2 separate regions of the Homo sapiens genome follow, and region 1 is linked to region 2. Evidence: fine-mapped expression QTL. A gene starts in region 2. The other region holds a variant in brackets. All regions are shown on one strand. Distances are between the middles of the regions. Region 1 overlaps OTOF (otoferlin). Region 2 holds the start of CIMIP2C (ciliary microtubule inner protein 2C).

Region 1 (8,330 bases), 20 kb before region 2:
CTCAGCAGCCTCGTGAGGGAAGCGGGTCAAAGGCCATGAGTTCCATGTTAGGAACGGGAATGCTAAGGCACAGAAGGCCCAGGCTGGTCAGAGTGGCCGTGGAAGCGGACCTCAGGCACTCTTTTCCACCATGTTCTTCCTCCATGGATCTCTCAGCCTCCTCTGCAGCCTCCTCAGCTCTGCTGGTGGCTCCGGGCCCTGCTGCCCTGAGCAGAAGCCTAGTATAGGGGGCGTAGCCCCTGCCTGCCGACAGGGGTCTGTGAAGCCCAGCCTCCTTCTGCAGCCACCCCAGGGGTTCCTGCCCAAACCAGGCCCCCAACAACAAGTCAGCTTCCAGACAGCCATTCCCCGTGGGCCAAGGGCCTTCCCCTTCCACCACTGTCATGGTTGTCCGTCTTCCTGTCAGCCTTAGCAGAGAAGACAGTCTCTGGCAGTTCCCTCCCGGGCTCTATTCCTGCCCCCACTTTCCCCACTGGCATGGGAAGTAGAGAGTGTGTGAGATGGACACACATTGTCCCAGGCTCCCCCATCCATACGCCACCCACTAGGGCATGTTGGGAGCACAGAGGTAAAGCTGCCCTCTTTGCTAGTCCAGCTGGAACTGGCCCAAGATGTGGGGAGAAATAAGTCAGGAGAGAATCGAGGGCAGGTCGAGGGGGCTCCATCGTGTGGGAAACACCAGCTAGTTCAGTTCACTTTGAGAAACAGCCGCTGGAGTCTCTGATGTTCTAGGCCATGTCCCGGGGCCTCGGGATAGAGGATGGACCAATGACAAAGGCACAGGCTCCCACCCACAGGTAGCTGATGGTCTAGAAGGGAGGCCAGGAGCCAACAGGGCACCAGTGCAAGGGAAACACCATTTTTTTTTTTTTTTTGAGATGCAGTCTTGCTCTGTTCCCAGGCTGGATTGCAGTGGCACGATCTCGGCTCACTGCAACCTCCGCCTCCTGGGTTCAAGCGATTCTCCTGCCTCAGCCTCCTGAGTAACTGGGATTACAGGCGCCGCCACCATGCCCAGCTAATTTTTGTATTTTTAGTAGAGACGGGGTTTCACCATGTTGGCCAGGCTCGTCTGGAACTCTTGACCTCAAATGACCCGCCCACCTTGGTCTCCCAAAGTGCTGGGATTACAGGCATGAGTCACCGCGCCAGGCCTCCAGTACAACACCATTCAGTACATACTCCAAGGTACAATTTCGCACAAGAAACAGTAATGGTACAGAGAAGGGAGGATAAATACTGTTTTAGGGATGGGATGGAACCACAAGAGAAGGGGTTGTAATTTCTGTGAGGAGAAACCTAGAGACAGGATGGGTTAAAGAAAAATTTGTTGCTTAGAATTAATTTATTATCCTGTGTCAATTCCATGGTAAGGGAAAAAAGGCAGCATGTATATTAGAACTCCATTAATTAAAAAAAATACCAAAACCCAAACTATATGCATATATTTCTTCTATGAAGAGACAAACATCTCAAACCACTGAAAGTGGTTACCCCCCTGGGCGCAGTGGCTCACGCCTGTAATCCCAGCAATTTGGGAGGCCGAGGCGGGCGGATCACCTGAGGTCGGGAGTTCGAGACCTGCTTGACCAACATGGAGAAACCCCGTCTCTACTAAAAATACAAAAATAGCTGGGTGTGGTGGCACATGCCTGTAATCCCAGCTACTCAAGAGGCCGAGGCAGGAGAATCGCTTGAACCCAGGAGGCGGAGGTTGTGGTGGGCCGAGATTGCGCCATTGCACTCCAGCCTGGGCAACTAGTGAAACTCCATCTCAAAAAAGTTAAATAAATAAAATAAAAAAGAAAGTGGTTATCCCTGGGGAGGGAGAGTGAGAAGATATTGAAAGCAGCATACTTTGATGTGAGCCACTGCACCTGGCTGAAAGACAAACAAAACAAAACAAAACAAAATGAAATGTGAATTTGAATTTTTTTTCAGTGACCATGCTTGATTTTTGCAATTGAAAGACAAACACCCTTTTTGTTTGTCTTGAGACAGAGTCTTGCTCTGTCACCCAGGCTGGAGTGCAGTAGTGTAATCTTGGCTCACTGCAAACTCTGCCTCCGGGGTTCAAATGATTCTCGTGCCTCAGCCTCCCAAGTAGTTGGGATTACAGGCATGCGCCACTGTGCCTAGCTAATTTTTTTACTTTTAGTAGAGATGGGGTTTCGCATGTTGGTCAGGCTGGTCTCGAATTCCTGGCCTCAAGTGATCTCCCACCTCGGCCTCCCAAAGTGCTGGGATTATAGGTGTGAGTCACCGCGCCCAGCCGAAAGACGAATACCTTTAAATCTCCACCAGCATAAACCATTTCATTGAAGGGCTGTCTCCAGGTTGAAGCCATTCCTATTTGGGGGTGAGTTTGGGTTGTCACTGATGAAGCCCATGGCATGGGTGGAGCGGACTGTGCTCCTCTCCCTACAGAAAACCTGGGAGCCCGGGCTAGAGCGGCGTCAGGCCAAGGAGGTACTGGAGGGGTCAGAGCTCCTCTGAACCTTCCCTGTGATGGGTCTGGGGGCTGGGCAAGGAAGGGGGCTCAGCAAAGCAGGCTCGTTCCCTCCGGGAACTGACCTCTCTCCTCTGTCAGTGGTGGCCTCATCTGTTTAGTAAGAGCTCTCCAGGGTCCTAGCAACTTTTATGACCCAGGAGCTAGTCCTAGTTCAATGCAGAGCTCCCCTCTGACGAGGGCCGGGGGTGGCGGGGTCGTTGATGTCAGATCCACTGAAACAGAGAGTGTGGATGCAGTCTGAAAGGGTGTGTGTTCGTGTGTGTGTTTTGGGGCGGGGGCAGGTGGGGAAGGGCTGGCTGCATCTGAGATAAGGAGGAAAAAACCATAAAGCAGAAGCTATCTATACGGCAAAGAGATGTGAAGTAAACATGATGGGAAAGAAAGAATGTTTAGCACCAGCCAGAGACATAAAAAACAAAAAAATCAACAAGAAATATCTCAACAACAAGCCCCCGGGCAATCAAGGGAGGAGAGGGAAAGTGCCTGAGGTTTGAGCTTTTAATTTTCCCCGCAGGTAACACACAATATAAATTGAGAATCAGCTGAGCATGTTTGTGTATGGGGGCTTCCCCTAAAGACCTGCTGCTCTGAATAACCAAAGGCCTTTGCATCCTAGAAGATTTTAATAAGCCTCGGATATAGCTGTCCTCCGGGGTCTCTTGGAGTGAAAAATGCAGCAACCCAGCGGAGGATTGGGAGAAGGTGGGGAGGGGCCCTGCTCCAAGGTGGTGTCAGATTCACATCTGCAGGAAACACCGAGGATCAAACCCTCCCCTGCTTGTGCATTTTTCCATAGCTTTGTTAGAGAGGAAGTAAAATACGTGAAATCAGCCATTGCAGAATTTATACATCAGGGTTCTGTTTCAAAATGTGCTAAAACCTCATTGATTTAGGCCCTGGGGATTTAGAGATGGTGAATATTCTCAAACATGATGAGCTAAATTTACCTGTAGATATTCTTTTTTAAAAAAGGTTTGCTGAAACACATCAATCATACAGAAACAGTGGAAAGGCCAAATTATTAAGAAAACAAAATGTCCTTCAGCATTTTGGAAGAGCCGTTTCAGGAGGGTATGTACAAACAGTGGCTGGCAGTATTCAAGT[G/T]GTTCTGTTCTGTTCACTGGAGCAGAGGCAGGGGACCTCCATCATCTGTTCCAAGTGATCAGGGGGATGACTAACCCCATCTCTTGTTTCAAGTTCATTTCCACTTCACATCTACTCCATTCAGCGTCAGTCTTGTTGACATTCCAGCTTCATTTTAAATGGCTTTCAGATAAAACCATTACAAATCCCAATATCCAATCACCTTTCTTGCCACAGGGAAAATGGAGAATAAAGCTTGAAAGAAAATAGCCTCTTCCTTGCATGGAAAGGCTGTTGTGGATCGAGTGAGAAGGAGGTTCGATGGGGGAAATAGAACAGCATCCTCCTTCCTTCTGAGGCAGCTGCTCCTGGGATAGCTGAGCTGTTTGGTTTGAAATAAACTCCTCCCTGAGTCAATAGATGGAGTATGAATAACAGAGTCTGTGCTTAAAGTGTAACAAGTGCCATGGTATCAGATATACCCATTTCTCCTTTCACCATTTAAAAATACCCACACGACAGATCTTCTCCAAATGGAGACGAGCTCAGTGCTTGTTTCAGAAGCAGGATGCCATGCTGGCCTTTCATGGGACATGATTTAAGGGGACAAAATGTTCCATCTGCACAAAATAGCTCCCTCTTCCAGACAGCTTACCCTGCTAGGGCCACACCTCTGAGAAAAGGCAGGTGTGCAGGGACACGGCTGCCAGCCCATGTGTGTTCATTCATTTCCACAGGCAACCAGGGCTTTCTAGCTCCTGGCTTGTGTGCCATTTGGCCTTCACAGAGGGGAGTTGTACTAAGATCATTCGAATCTGAACGATGCCTTTAAGAGCGTATTACAATCCAGAGGGAGATATATCAGACATGGAAAATTCTGCCGATGATACAAGGCAGAATTTTGTCATTGGCATGCAAAAAGTGTAAATAAAGTGAGAACACAGGAAAAGGAGCAATGACTCTCAATGTAGTGGATTAAGGAGGCATTGCAGAGGCACACGCATTGACGCTAGAAGACCAGAAGAAATCTGGATATTCAGAGAGACTGGGAAGCAAGGAGAAGGAGGGAAATCCAGGCAGAGAGAACAGTGTAAGGAAATGTTTGAAAGCGTAGAGCAGAGAGTAGAGCCTCCAAGGAGCTGGACACAGGACAGGGGAGTCCCGATGGTGAAGGGAAAAGCAAGAATGGTCTGCCCTCAGGGAGCAGCCTGTGGAAGCAAGACTGGAGAGGGGCTGGGGTCCCGAAAGGGCAGAGGGTGAGGTGGTGGGCCATCCGAAGGGGAAGGAGAAGGTCCTGGGACTGTTTTCAAGGACGTCGTGATTTTGCCAGGGCCCAGCCCACTAGCCTATCTCCCAGCAGTGCCTGCCATTGCTATTGTCCCTGTGTGAGCTGAGAAATAGAGTAAAACTCTGCTGGTGACTCAGACCTGGGGCTGCTATTTCCTTGTGTTATTTAAAATCAGCAAAGCCTTGTTGTATGCACTGCCTGGGCTGGGCTGTACAAAGCTCAGCAAATAGTCCCATTCCCTCCCACAAAGCTCCCATGTCCTGGCGTCTCCTCTCCCTCTCTTCCTCTACAGCGACTCTCTGAGTGATGGTCCTGCTGTATTTTCTCTCTCCCCACTTCAGATCGATCTGTTCCTTTTGAAGGCCAGATACTCCCATGGAGCACCAGGAAGCAGGGCCCAAGCACCCCTGCGTGCAGGAAAAAGCCAGGCCCACTCAGGTGTGCGGCCCGGCACAACGGCCCATGGTCTGGAGGCCTGGGAGCTGGCCATCCAACCCCTTGGGGTCTCAGACTCACCATCTGTTAGCCGGGGGTCATTATCCTGGACCAGCCTGTGTCCTGGGACCATCACGAGGATGACAAGAAACTGTTGTGGGAAAGTCTAAGTAAAGCATCAAGTCCTTTACAAGCACGAGGGGGCATGGGATAGAGGTTAAGGCTCTTGGGCCAGAGTCCCTGAGTTCAAATCCCAGCTGCCTCTTCCTAGTTTGCGTGCCCTGGATGAAGCTAATTAACTTCTCTTTGCCCTTGTTTCCTCACCCTTAAAATGAAGGAAATAATAATGCTTACAATAGCATTTGGTGCAGTTTATCCCTCAATAAGAAACAGCTATTCTCAGTCTACTAAATAGTCTTGTTTCTCCTTCATTCTATTTTGTTTTGAATTTATTTTTTTGAGACGGAGTCTTGATCTGTCACCCAGGCTGGAGTGCAGTGGCGTAATCTCCGCTCACTGCAACCTCCACCTCCTGGGTTCAAGTGACTCTCCTGCATTAGCCTCCTAAGTAGCTGGAATTACAGGCGTGTGCCACCATGCCTGGCTAACTTTTTTTGTATTTTTAGAGAGACAGGGTTTCACCAGCATGTGGCCAAGCTGTTCTCAAATTCCTGACTTTAAGTGATCCTCCTGCCTTGGCCTCCCAAAATGCTAGGATTATAGGCGTGGGCCACTGCGCCCAGCTTGCTTGTCCTTTAGACCTTTAAGTTATGTGCTAAATATAAAAATGGCTTCTTCTATTATGAATCACATTTGTAGCTTATTTTTAGTAGCATGGAATCAGAAATAATTTTTTTCCTCATCTTATATAATATTTTTCAAGTTTTAGGTATTTTAGATGTGAGTCTCTCTTCTTTTTTTAAAACTAGGTGAAACTTACATTCATGGATCTTAAGTGTAAAATTCAATGAGTTTCAATAAATGCATTTCCCTGTATACCGCCACACAATCAAGACATAGAACATTTCCATTTGTTCCACATGTTCTCTCATGTCCCTTTCCAGTCGATTTCTAGTCCCTTAGTAACCAGTGCTCTGATTTCTAGCACCAAAGATCAGTTTGCCTGTTTTAAACTTCATATAAAAGGTATCCTACAGAATGTACTTTTTGTGTGTCTGGCTTCTTTTGGTCAAGGTAATGTTTTTGTGATTCATCCATGTTGTTGCATATATAAGTAATGTATTGATTTTTATTGTAGAGTAATAGCCCGTTGCATGCCTATACCACAACTTCTTGGTCCATTTCTCTGTTGATGATAAACTTTTGGGTGCTTCTAGGGTTGGGCTATATGAGCAAAGTTGCTGTAAACATTCATGTGAGTCTTTTTCTGAAAATATAATTTTATTTCTCTTGAGGAAATTCCTAAGAACAGAATGGTTATGTCACAGGATAGGTACCCTTAGCTTTATAAGAAATTGCTGGCCGGGCGCAATGGCTCATGCCTGTAATCCCAGCACTTTGGGAGGCTGAGGCAGGCAGATCATGAGGTCAGGAGATGGAGACCATCATGGCTAACACGGTGAAACCCTGTCTCTACTAAAAATACAAAAAAAAAATTAGCCAGGCGTGGTGGTGCGAACCTGTAGTCCCAGCTACTCGGGAGGCTGAAGCAGGAGAATCGCTTGAACCCGGGAGGCAAAGGTTGCATTGAACCAAGATCACACCACTGCACTCCAGCCTGGGTGACAGAACGAGATGCCATCCCAAAAAAAAAAAAAAAGAAAAGAAAAGAAAGAAATCGCCAAATAGTTTTCTAAGGGGATTGCATCATTTCACACTCTTATCAGCAATGTAAAAAAAATTTCAGTTGTTCCATCCTCATCAACATTTGATTACTGTCAGACTTTTACATTTTAGCTATTTTAGAGCATGTGAAATAATATCTCTTTGTAATTTTGATCTTCATTTCTCTAATGACTCAGGATGTTGATCACATTTTCACATGTTTATTGGCCATACGTCTATCTTATTCTATGGAGTGTCTCTTCAAGTCTTTTGCCTACATAAAAAATTTCATAATTTGTCTTATTATTATTGACTTATAGGGATTCTTTATATATTCTGGCTACAAGTCCTTTGTCAGATAAATGTGAATATTTTCTTCCTGTGTGTGACTTGCCTTCTCTTGCCTTCTTAAATGTGATTTTTTTATGAATAGGAGTTTTCAATTTTTTTTACTCTGTGACTAGCCAAAGAGAGTTTCCAATTTTTAAGAAATGCAAGTTTTTAGTGAAATTTATTTCTTATGTTTAGTCTTTTAAAATTTTTCTTTAAGAAACCTTTGCCTAACCCAAGAATACAAAAAAAGATGTTCTATATTTTCTTCTAGAAGCTTATAAGTTTTTAATGTTTAATTCTATAATCCATCTTACATTAATTTTTGTGGATGGTATGAGGTAGGAGTTTGAAGTTCATTTTTTCTCCATATAGATACCTAGTTCTAGATATCCAACACCTTGATTGAAAATCAATTGATTTTATATGTACAGAGTTTATTTCTGGACACTATTCTGCTCCATTGGTCTATATGTCTATTCTTAGACCAATGCCACACTTTCTTAATTCCTTTAACTTTATAGTTAGACTTATAATTAAATATAGTTGACCCTTGAACAACACAGGGATTAGAGGTACCAGCCCCTCATATAGTTGAAAAGCTGCATATAAATTTTGACTCCCCAAAAACTTAGCTACTAATAGACTACTGTTAACCAGAAGCCTTAATGATAACATAAACAGCCAATTAACACATATTTTGTATATGTATTATGTACTGTACTTTTACAATAAAGTAAGCTAGAGAAAAGAAAATGTTAGGAAAAAAGATAAGGAAGAGAAACCATGGCCAGGCGAAGTGGCTCATGCCTGTAATCCCAGCACTTTAGGAGGCCGAGGCTGGTGGATCACTTGAGGTCAGGAGTTCGAGACCAGCCTGACCAACATGGTGAAACC
Region 2 (8,330 bases):
AGGATGAGAAAAGACCAGACAGAAGAGAGGCGAGGGGCTCCCGGGGTTCCCGCCCATGAATAGATCTAAAAGAAGCCAACAGTGTCCCCCATCACTCTGGGGCCCAGGGAGCTACTGGCTGCCTGGTTTCTCCCAGTCACCCTGGGTGCCCCAGGCTCCATACCCGGCCCCCACCCTGTGCTCAAGGAAATCAACCTGCAGGAGAGGGAGAGAGAGAGAAGGAGGGGGTCCTGGGTCTCCCTGAGCTCAGGGATGTGGTCCTCACTTCTGCCTCCCCAGGCAGAGGGCTCTGTGCCCTGCCCGGGGAACTGGCATGTTGGCAAGCACAAGGAGACACAGGCATGGAAGAACAGGGGACCCTGATTTTCCAGAAATCACAATGGCCAGTCAGTCCCAGGCAGATGACTACCTGTGAAAAGGCTCGTCGCCCCAGCCCCTGCTAGAACTTTTCCCACCCATCCTCCCAGCCCTGTCCTATCCCCGGCCACCTCCAGAGCATGGGCTGGTCCAGCTCTCAGAGCTGGCGTCCCTCTGAGACAGCGGCTTCCCTACCTCGGAAAGTCACTTTGGCGATCCGGTCGCCCCTGCCCCGCAGCTCCGAGACTGTCTTGAGGTGGATGAGCAAGGCCATGCTGGTGTGGGCTGCCTGGCACTGCCAGGCAGGAGCAGCGGGAAGGAGCTAGCCGGTGGAGCACGGCTCACACGCCTCTCTCTTCTCTGCCGCTGCCTCCTCCTCCTCCTCCCGACCCCCCTCCGATGCTGCCCACAGAGACCAAGGCAACCAAGCCGAGCTAAGCTGCTCCTGCAGCGACTCACAGAGCCTCACAGCCCCCGCCCCTCCAAGTTGTCAGCCCAGCGTGTGTGTATCGGTGTGTGCGTGTGTGTGTGTGTGTGTGTGCACCCAATGTGCAGCCTGGGAGTGCGGCAGAGTTGGAATTCATTATTCAGCAGCCGCCGGCTCCCAGATAAAGCTCTGTCCAGCTTCAGGTGTCTTCTCCCAGCTCCTGGAAGGGAGGCTCTGCCCACCCCTCTGCAGGGCTCTGCTGCTTCCCTGCTAAGCAAGCCCTGCCACCAGTAGTGGGCACAGAGGAGTGGGCATGAGCATAGGTAGGGTGGATGTGGGGCGGGGGGCACTCCCACCCACAGGGGCACACTACAAGAAGAAGGGAATGTATTTGTCCACCTACGCCCACCTCTTCCCTGCTGGAGACTGTGCCCCCAAGAGGCTGGGCCCTGAGCCCTGCCCTGGGATCCCTGTTTCTGAATCTCAGGAAGCAGAGAGGCTGGGGCTGCTGCCTGAGGGGAGGCTCAGGACCAGGCCATGCATGATGGAGATGGCTGGTTGTGGAGGCAGCAGAGGCTTATGTGCTACCAGGGGCCATGTTTAAGGATCCAGGGCACTAACCTAGCCCCACCCCAAGGCTGGGGGTCAGGCAGGCTAGCGAAGGTAAGCCAGGCTGATGTTTGCTTTCCAGCCAGAGGAGCAGAATTGAATGGCCTTCTGCTGTTATAAGCTGCTAGGGGCAGGAGAAGGGATGTCTATAGGGAAATTTCTAAGGACCAAAAGAGAACTGCCCCCTCCTGTCTTCCAGCAGCATACACCAAGGAAAGGGACGCTGGGGGCCAGAATCCCTGATGCTGGAATCTGTGCAGGGTCATCTGCAGCCTTGTTCTTGCTATTCATTCTTGGTGGAATGCCCTCCACCCCACCCTGGACTCAGCTTGAGTGCCTGCTCCTGGAGGTGCCTCTGTACCCGCACCCCAGCTGGGTTGGGGTCCTCCTCTGTGCTGCTCCTGCCTCCTCTCATCTTACTGAGTCCTGGGGCTGCTTCCCTTGCCTTTTCCCCTCCTGACCTCAGGAGGGCCCTGGAGCACAGCATCCCTCTACCCCAGAGCCCCACATGGTATCCTGTGCACCGTAGGATGCCCAATTACTGTTGAAAGGATAAAAGAGTGAGCTCAGGGATCTACCTGAAACAGAGTCTAAAGGTTAAAAAGAGAAATACTAATTTTTCACAGCATGGTAACAAGAGGTTACTTCTTTTGAATTCTGCATTCCAAATAACCTACAGTATGTCCCAAGAGCCTTCTTTCCTCCTTCTAGATATTTCCTTGCTACTGTGCCCTATTTTTCTTTTTCTACTTACGTTTTTTTCCTTTGCACTTTTTCCTAACCAATTCTTGCTTACCTTTCTCACATTTATCTAATCATATTGAATTTAAAAATGTCTTAGAGTATTCTGTTTATTGAATACAAGTATGAATGCTAAATTTTCAAAAGCTAGATAAGTTTAATGTCTTAAAAAAAAAAACACCTAAATTCACTAGCATTTTCCATCCATGAGGTCATCAGGTGATCTGTGTTTTTAAGGCTTGGTGACTACAAGGTACAACAACAACAACAGAAAATATCTTCTTCCTTGGTTCTCTGGAGGTCCTCCCCTGAAAGGAGTGAATTTCATGAGGCCTCTTATAGACCCTGTGCATCTTTAGGAAAAAGCCCATGATCCTGCCCTAGCCAAGGCATTGATCTATGCTGAATCTCACTTTCCACATCCATAAAATGGTAGCAATTCCACTCAGCAGCTCTCAATGGAGTCAGCTGGCCTTTCTGAAAACCTAAGAGACAGATCCCACTCTTTTTTTTTTTTTTTTTTTGAGAGAGAGTCTCACTCTGTCACCCAGGCTGGAGGGCAGTGGAGTGATCTAGGCTCACTGCAACCTCTGCCTCCCGGGTTCAAGCGATTCTCCTGCCTCAGCCTCCCAAATAGGTCAGACTATAAGCATGTGCTACCATGCCCAGCTAATGTTTGTATTTTTAGTAGAGATGGGGTTTCACCATGTTGGCTAGGCTGGTCTCAAACTGCTGACCTCAAGTGATCCGCCTGCCTCGGCCTTCCAAAATGCTGGGATTACAGGCATGAGCCACCGTTCCCAGCCAGAACCCACTTTTTAATTTCCATTCTTCTGTTACCCATTTTGGTAACTGAGTATATAATTTATGTAATGAACATTTACTGAATTCTTTCCAGAGCCAGGTGCTGAGATTCAGGGATGAATATGATATGGATGGCACAGGATCCCAATCAGACGAGACAGATGGACTAGAACACAGGCAGGTGGAAGGCAGGGTGGTGGGTTTACCAGCAGGACTGGCTGGGCAGCCCTGAATGGGGGAGGAAGTAGGCGGTCAACCTCACCAGGGCTGGGGGTCTTTGACTCATGTTTTCCTTATTGTAGAACATGTTCCCCAATGAGAATTTAGAAAAATACAGACATGACTGCATTCTGAAGGATGGATGGATTTTCCTTCCACCCAGTTTGTTTGCAGCCGTTCCTTTGCCTACAGCTCTCTTTCCAACCAGGCCTCAGTGTTTCTGCTTCCTGAGCCTCTGGGAAGCCTGTGGCTCCCCTTCATTTCATTGGCATTTGCCAGGGGAAGTCTTTGGAGAATGCTGGTGGCAGCCACATTCTGTGAACCCAGTAGCGTCTGCGGTCTTCATCCACTGCCATTTACAGAACCGAAGTGCGAGGGGAGCACTGCTCTCCATCCGGCATCTGAAGGGAAGAAGCAAGACCTGGAGACAAAGTGGGAACTGCCAGGCTTCTTCATGACACCAGGACTGCTGCAGAGGGAGCTGGGGTGGCAGGGCCTCCACCCGAGTCACCAAGAGCCTGGCACCGTGGAAGCTGTCCCCATACCCTCACCCCTTATGGAAAAGCCGAAGGCCCTGTGCCTGCCCTAGGCACCAAGGCTGGTGTAAGGGTCCCTGGAGAAACTCAAATGTGGAGGCTGAAGCAGTCACAGGGAGGATTACACAGGGGGTGGGCCTTCAGCAGGCCTGCTCTCTGGGGCAAGCGCTACCCCTGCGGATGCCATCCCCAAAATGAACGGCAGCATTGGGGACAAATGTAAATCACACACCCAGACGTTCTATGATTTTCTTTTTGCCTCTTGTGGAGTAGTTTACAGGTATGATGAGGTGAGAAGGAAGCCATCAGCTAGAGATTAAGAAGAAAAATGAAAAATGCTCCTCTTCGCAAGGCGCGCACACACACACGCACACATGCACGCACGCACGCACACACACAATTACACACAGCGTCCTAGGCAACCTCGCCCAGCGCGGCCCACTACAGAGCCCCTTCCTGGAACTCCCATGGAGCTGGGGTGCAGGGGAAGCCTTGGAGAGACATAGCTCCTGGGGACCCTAAGGCCACTCAGGTTTCTGGGCCTGAGCCACGGTGGGGCAGCTGCTTCGTGCGTGACCTCCAAAGTCAGGACCTGGCCTGTCCTTTGTGGTAGCGTCGCGTTCCAAGCCGGGTCACCGCAAGACGGATCCCGCCAGGCCTCTCCAGCGATGTTCTGCCTCCCTCCCGCATCTGAGCCTCTGCACATCCCGCAGGCAGCAAGGCAGAGAGCCCCGACGCGCCGGGGCAAGTGACAGGGGTCACCCAGCAGAGCTCGCGGAAATGGGAGGCGCCTTCTGGGCGCGCCCTATGGGGCTGCTCCGGGAGGTGGCCGCCAGGGGGGCGCAGTGTCTCGGAACGCGAGGACCGCGGGGCCAGCTGGCGTTGCCAGGCTCGCCGCCGTGGCCGTTGCCAGGTGACCCGCCGCTGTTTACCGTGGGGCGGAGCGGAGCGCCAGGCTCGCTGTACTCGCGCACCCACCATGGCCTCCCGCAGCGCGGGCACCCTACTGACCGAGTTCAATGCCGCCTACGTGCCCCCTGGACTCATGCCCGGGTAAGGCCGAGGGAGCGCCTCCTCCCCTCCCCCTTCCACTAGCGCCCTCCTCGGTGATCGAAATTCAGCCCCCTGCCCCCGGACTTTGGGGTTGAAGGAACCCCGAGGAGCCAATTTTCCACCCGACGGGGCGAGGGGCCTTCCTAGAGGTTTGTGGTTTCAGAGTAGGAAGTGGGCAGGCACGGGCGGGGGCCTCCCCAGATTCCCCTTCACAGGAAGGCGCTCCCTGGCAAGTGGGGCACAGCCAGCAGGGCATAAGGGACCTCGCATGGATGTAGCCGGGGAAGGGGGAGGAGATGGAGCCACGTGGGGTTTAGTGCTTGGAGACGCCCCAGGCGGGCAGCCTCCAGCGCTTAGAGAAAATGCGAGAAAATCAGGCCCTTCCGTCCGGCGCACAGGGCCAGCACCCAGCATTCGGGCAAGGTCAGTACTTGTTGGTTGAAGGAGGGAAGGATACCGGGTGGGTGCCCGCTCGAAGAACCTGGCAAGGCCGGAAGAGCCGTAGTTAATGGGTCATGTGTGCAGTACCCGCCCGACTTTGCGGTCGGTCCTTTCACAGACCTCCCTTTATCCTCCCAGAAGTTTTTCTTGGAAAGCTTCCTGGCCACTTGCCCTGAGCGCTGGCTTGCTGTTTAGCACTTTCAAATACTAGGTTACACCTACCTTTCTTTACTCTGGATATTTTCAGACTCCAACCATCTAACATGCAAGTCTGGCTGTTGCCTCCTGTTCTTTGGCTCTTTCTCCTACAGTGTCTGATGTTTCTACTCTGGACCGCCTCTCCCAGGGTGTAAGGCTGTCTTTATCCCTCCTACCAGTCAGCATAGGTACTGAGAACAGGCACTGGATTCTGAGAGGCAACCTGTACAGTATCAGCAAATCTGTATAGAATGAATGAATGATCCTAAGAACCCTTGTCTGAAAAAAAGAGTGAACGAATGAATGAAATGAATGTCTTGAGGATTCTGCAGGCAGAGTCTCCAAATGGGTGAAAAAGCCCGCATGCTCTCCCCTGCAATCGGAACAGATGGCAACATGAAGAAAAGTGTATTTGGTATGAAGTTGAGATTGTTTTGAAGCAGAATAAGCTAGACACAGAGGTGCTGTGACATTCAAATCATTTCTGGAGGCTGCATGAGAAAGTAGCAACCAGGGGCTGGTGCTGTAGTTTTAACCTAGCCCATTTGTGGATGCGACCTCTCTCTGGGCCTTGGAGGGAGCTCAAAAGCTACCAGGGTTCCCATCAGACAAAGCTGATTTACCAGGTCATGGTAGTTTCCCGAAGCCAAGCCAGGTGACTTAGGATTTGCCCGTTTTCCTTTATTTAAGACATTCATGTGGGTCAGTGCTTGGGACATGCCAGGTGTTATGTTAGGAGGCTGGGAAGACAAAGACAAACAAGTGAGGGGCTGCCCTAGTGTGGTGTAAACACATAAGGTTTAGTTCAAATCCATTTTTGCAGCCTTGGATTGTGGTGCTGACACCACATTCTGGGTGTTCATCATGAGATTTGATTTTATACATTGACTTTTTTTCTTAAGCCTCCCACAGTCTCCAGTTGGAAAATTTTCTATTGTCTGACTCCTGGACATTTCCCATCTGAGGGGCAAGGCCTGGTGCTCCTGCAAACCCTGCCCCACAGTTCCCCAACTCTGTTTGGCAGGGGTGGGAGCTGCAGGTTTCAGAAGCAGTCCCCAGGGTGCTTTCCTATTCCTGCCACTTCTCAGCAGTTCCCTTGAGCGCCCTGTCCTGTGATTGATTTAGAAATGGCAATAAGAGGATCATGAATGAGGCTTCAAGCCTGGACTGGGCTAGTTTGAGCAGCTGAGCCCGTATCTGCTGCTTTCTCATCTAGATCTTTCTGGAAGGGTTGTGTTCCCCTTAAAGATTCCCATCAGCAAGGGATGAATTGAGTCATTTTGTGTTTCCAAATGCTACCTCGTTGGCAATTCTGTTAACTTAATGAAAGAACCCAAGATTCCCGACCACACTTGGATAATTCTTATTTTTGTGTGTCTGTTCAAACACTAATCACAGGATTTTAAAGCACAGCCAGTCTCTTCTGACACTCACATCACCCTGCTCTTACCTGCTTTATTCATAGAGGCGAGAATATTCATGCTGGTGTGGACCTCAGAGATCATGTAGCCCTGTCCCCTCCTGTTCCAGATGTGGTCACTGAGGTGTGGGGGGACTTGCCTGAGCCCCACGCTGGTGATTGAAGTGCTGGGCTGGAGCCAGGTCCCTAATGCCTGGCAATAACACCATGATCTCCTAAGTCTGAGCTCCAACTATGTACCAGGCACTGTGCTGGGCCCTTCACAACATTTTCTTCTTCTTCTTCTTCTCCTTCTCCTTCTCCTTCTCCTTCTTCTTCCCCTTCCCCTTCCCCTTCCCCTTCCCCTACCCCTTCTTCTTTTTTTAATGGAGTCTTGCTCTGTTGCCCAGGCTGGAGTGCAATGGCGCAATCTCGGCTCACAGCAACCTCTGCCTCCTGGGTTCAAGCAATTCTCCCTACCTCAGCCTCCTGAGTAGCTGGGATTACAGGCACGCGCCACCACAGCCGGCTAATTTTTGTATTTTTAGTACAGGCGGGGTTTTGCCATGTTGGCCAGGCTGGTCTCGAACTCCTGACCTCAGATGATCAACCCGCCTTGGCCTCCCAAAGTGCTGGGATTACAGGCATGAGCCACCACGCCTGGCCTTTTTTCTTTTTTAAAATCATCACAATAACCCAGATGAGGAATGAGCAGCTTGCCCAAAGTCATTCAGCAAGTTGCCGAGCCTCGGCTTTGTGACTTCAACGCCCCAACTCACCCCAATATCTCCCCAACCGTCATGTGGTGTTTCACACTGCCTCCCTCATTTAGCAGGGAGGGAATGGGGTCGACAGTAAGAGATGGACTCTGGAGCAAGCCTGCCTGGTACGAATCCTGGCTCCATGACTTCCTTACCCTGGGCAGGTTACTTATCCCCCCTGCCTCACCTACCTTATCTGTTCAATGGGGATGATCACGGTGTGCAGGTTAAAGAGGTTTCAGTTAGTTAACATGCGTAAAGCCTGGCACTTGATCATTGTTAGCTGTTATCATTAGTTAGATCTCTACTGTGTTCAAGATCTGGTTCTAGGAACCCCGGGGAACATGAAATAATAACAAAGCTGGTCTTCAGCCTCGCCGGCCAGGGTGCTCCATTTGGTTCCATGCTGTTCCTGGGGACACAGCTCCTAGGCACCTTGCCACAGGCAGTGCCTGCCTACGCCTGGCCTGGGTGCTATTCCTGCAGTGGGCAGGAGCTCTTGGGTCAGAGCCCCTGAGATTTGAAGGGGTTTGAAGGGATGAGATTGGCCTCAGTGAGGATCCAAGCTTCCTGCTTGCAAGTCGGATCTGGGTGGCATCCACTCCTCATTCTCTGTTTCTGGCCATGCCTCACCGGCTCTCAGTGCAGACACTTGGCCTGCGCCATGCATTCATTCATGCCCAGACTGCCACTGCGCCCCATGCCCACAGCTCCTGCCCAGCGGCTCTCACCAAGAGTGAGGGCAGGAGGATTTGCCTCCCAGCCCCTCTCTCTGTCTGCCTGGG

What was found. PIP is the estimated chance that this variant, and not a neighbour inherited with it, causes the effect.
Region 1: its variant is fine-mapped to the expression of CIMIP2C in thyroid (GTEx, PIP 0.99).

What each region holds. Positions count from the first base shown.
Region 1 is chr2:26,537,958-26,546,287 of GRCh38, forward strand. The region is part of intron 1 of OTOF (otoferlin); the gene reads right to left. Among named protein-coding and RNA genes, the nearest start is that of OTOF, 17 kb to the right of the region's middle. RefSeq lists enhancers at 1-728, 5,101-5,835. The variant G/T (reference allele first, on the strand shown) is at 3,617.
Region 2 is chr2:26,557,941-26,566,270 of GRCh38, forward strand. It overlaps CIMIP2C (ciliary microtubule inner protein 2C), which reads left to right and starts at 4,647. Exons shown (of 4, transcript NM_001105519.3): 1 at 4,647-4,746. The coding sequence starts at 4,673. It overlaps OTOF (otoferlin), which reads right to left and starts at 816. Exons shown (of 47, transcript NM_194248.3): 1 at 553-816. The coding sequence starts at 631. RefSeq lists enhancers at 177-970, 971-1,763, 4,421-4,921, 8,168-8,330 and a silencer at 4,519-4,658.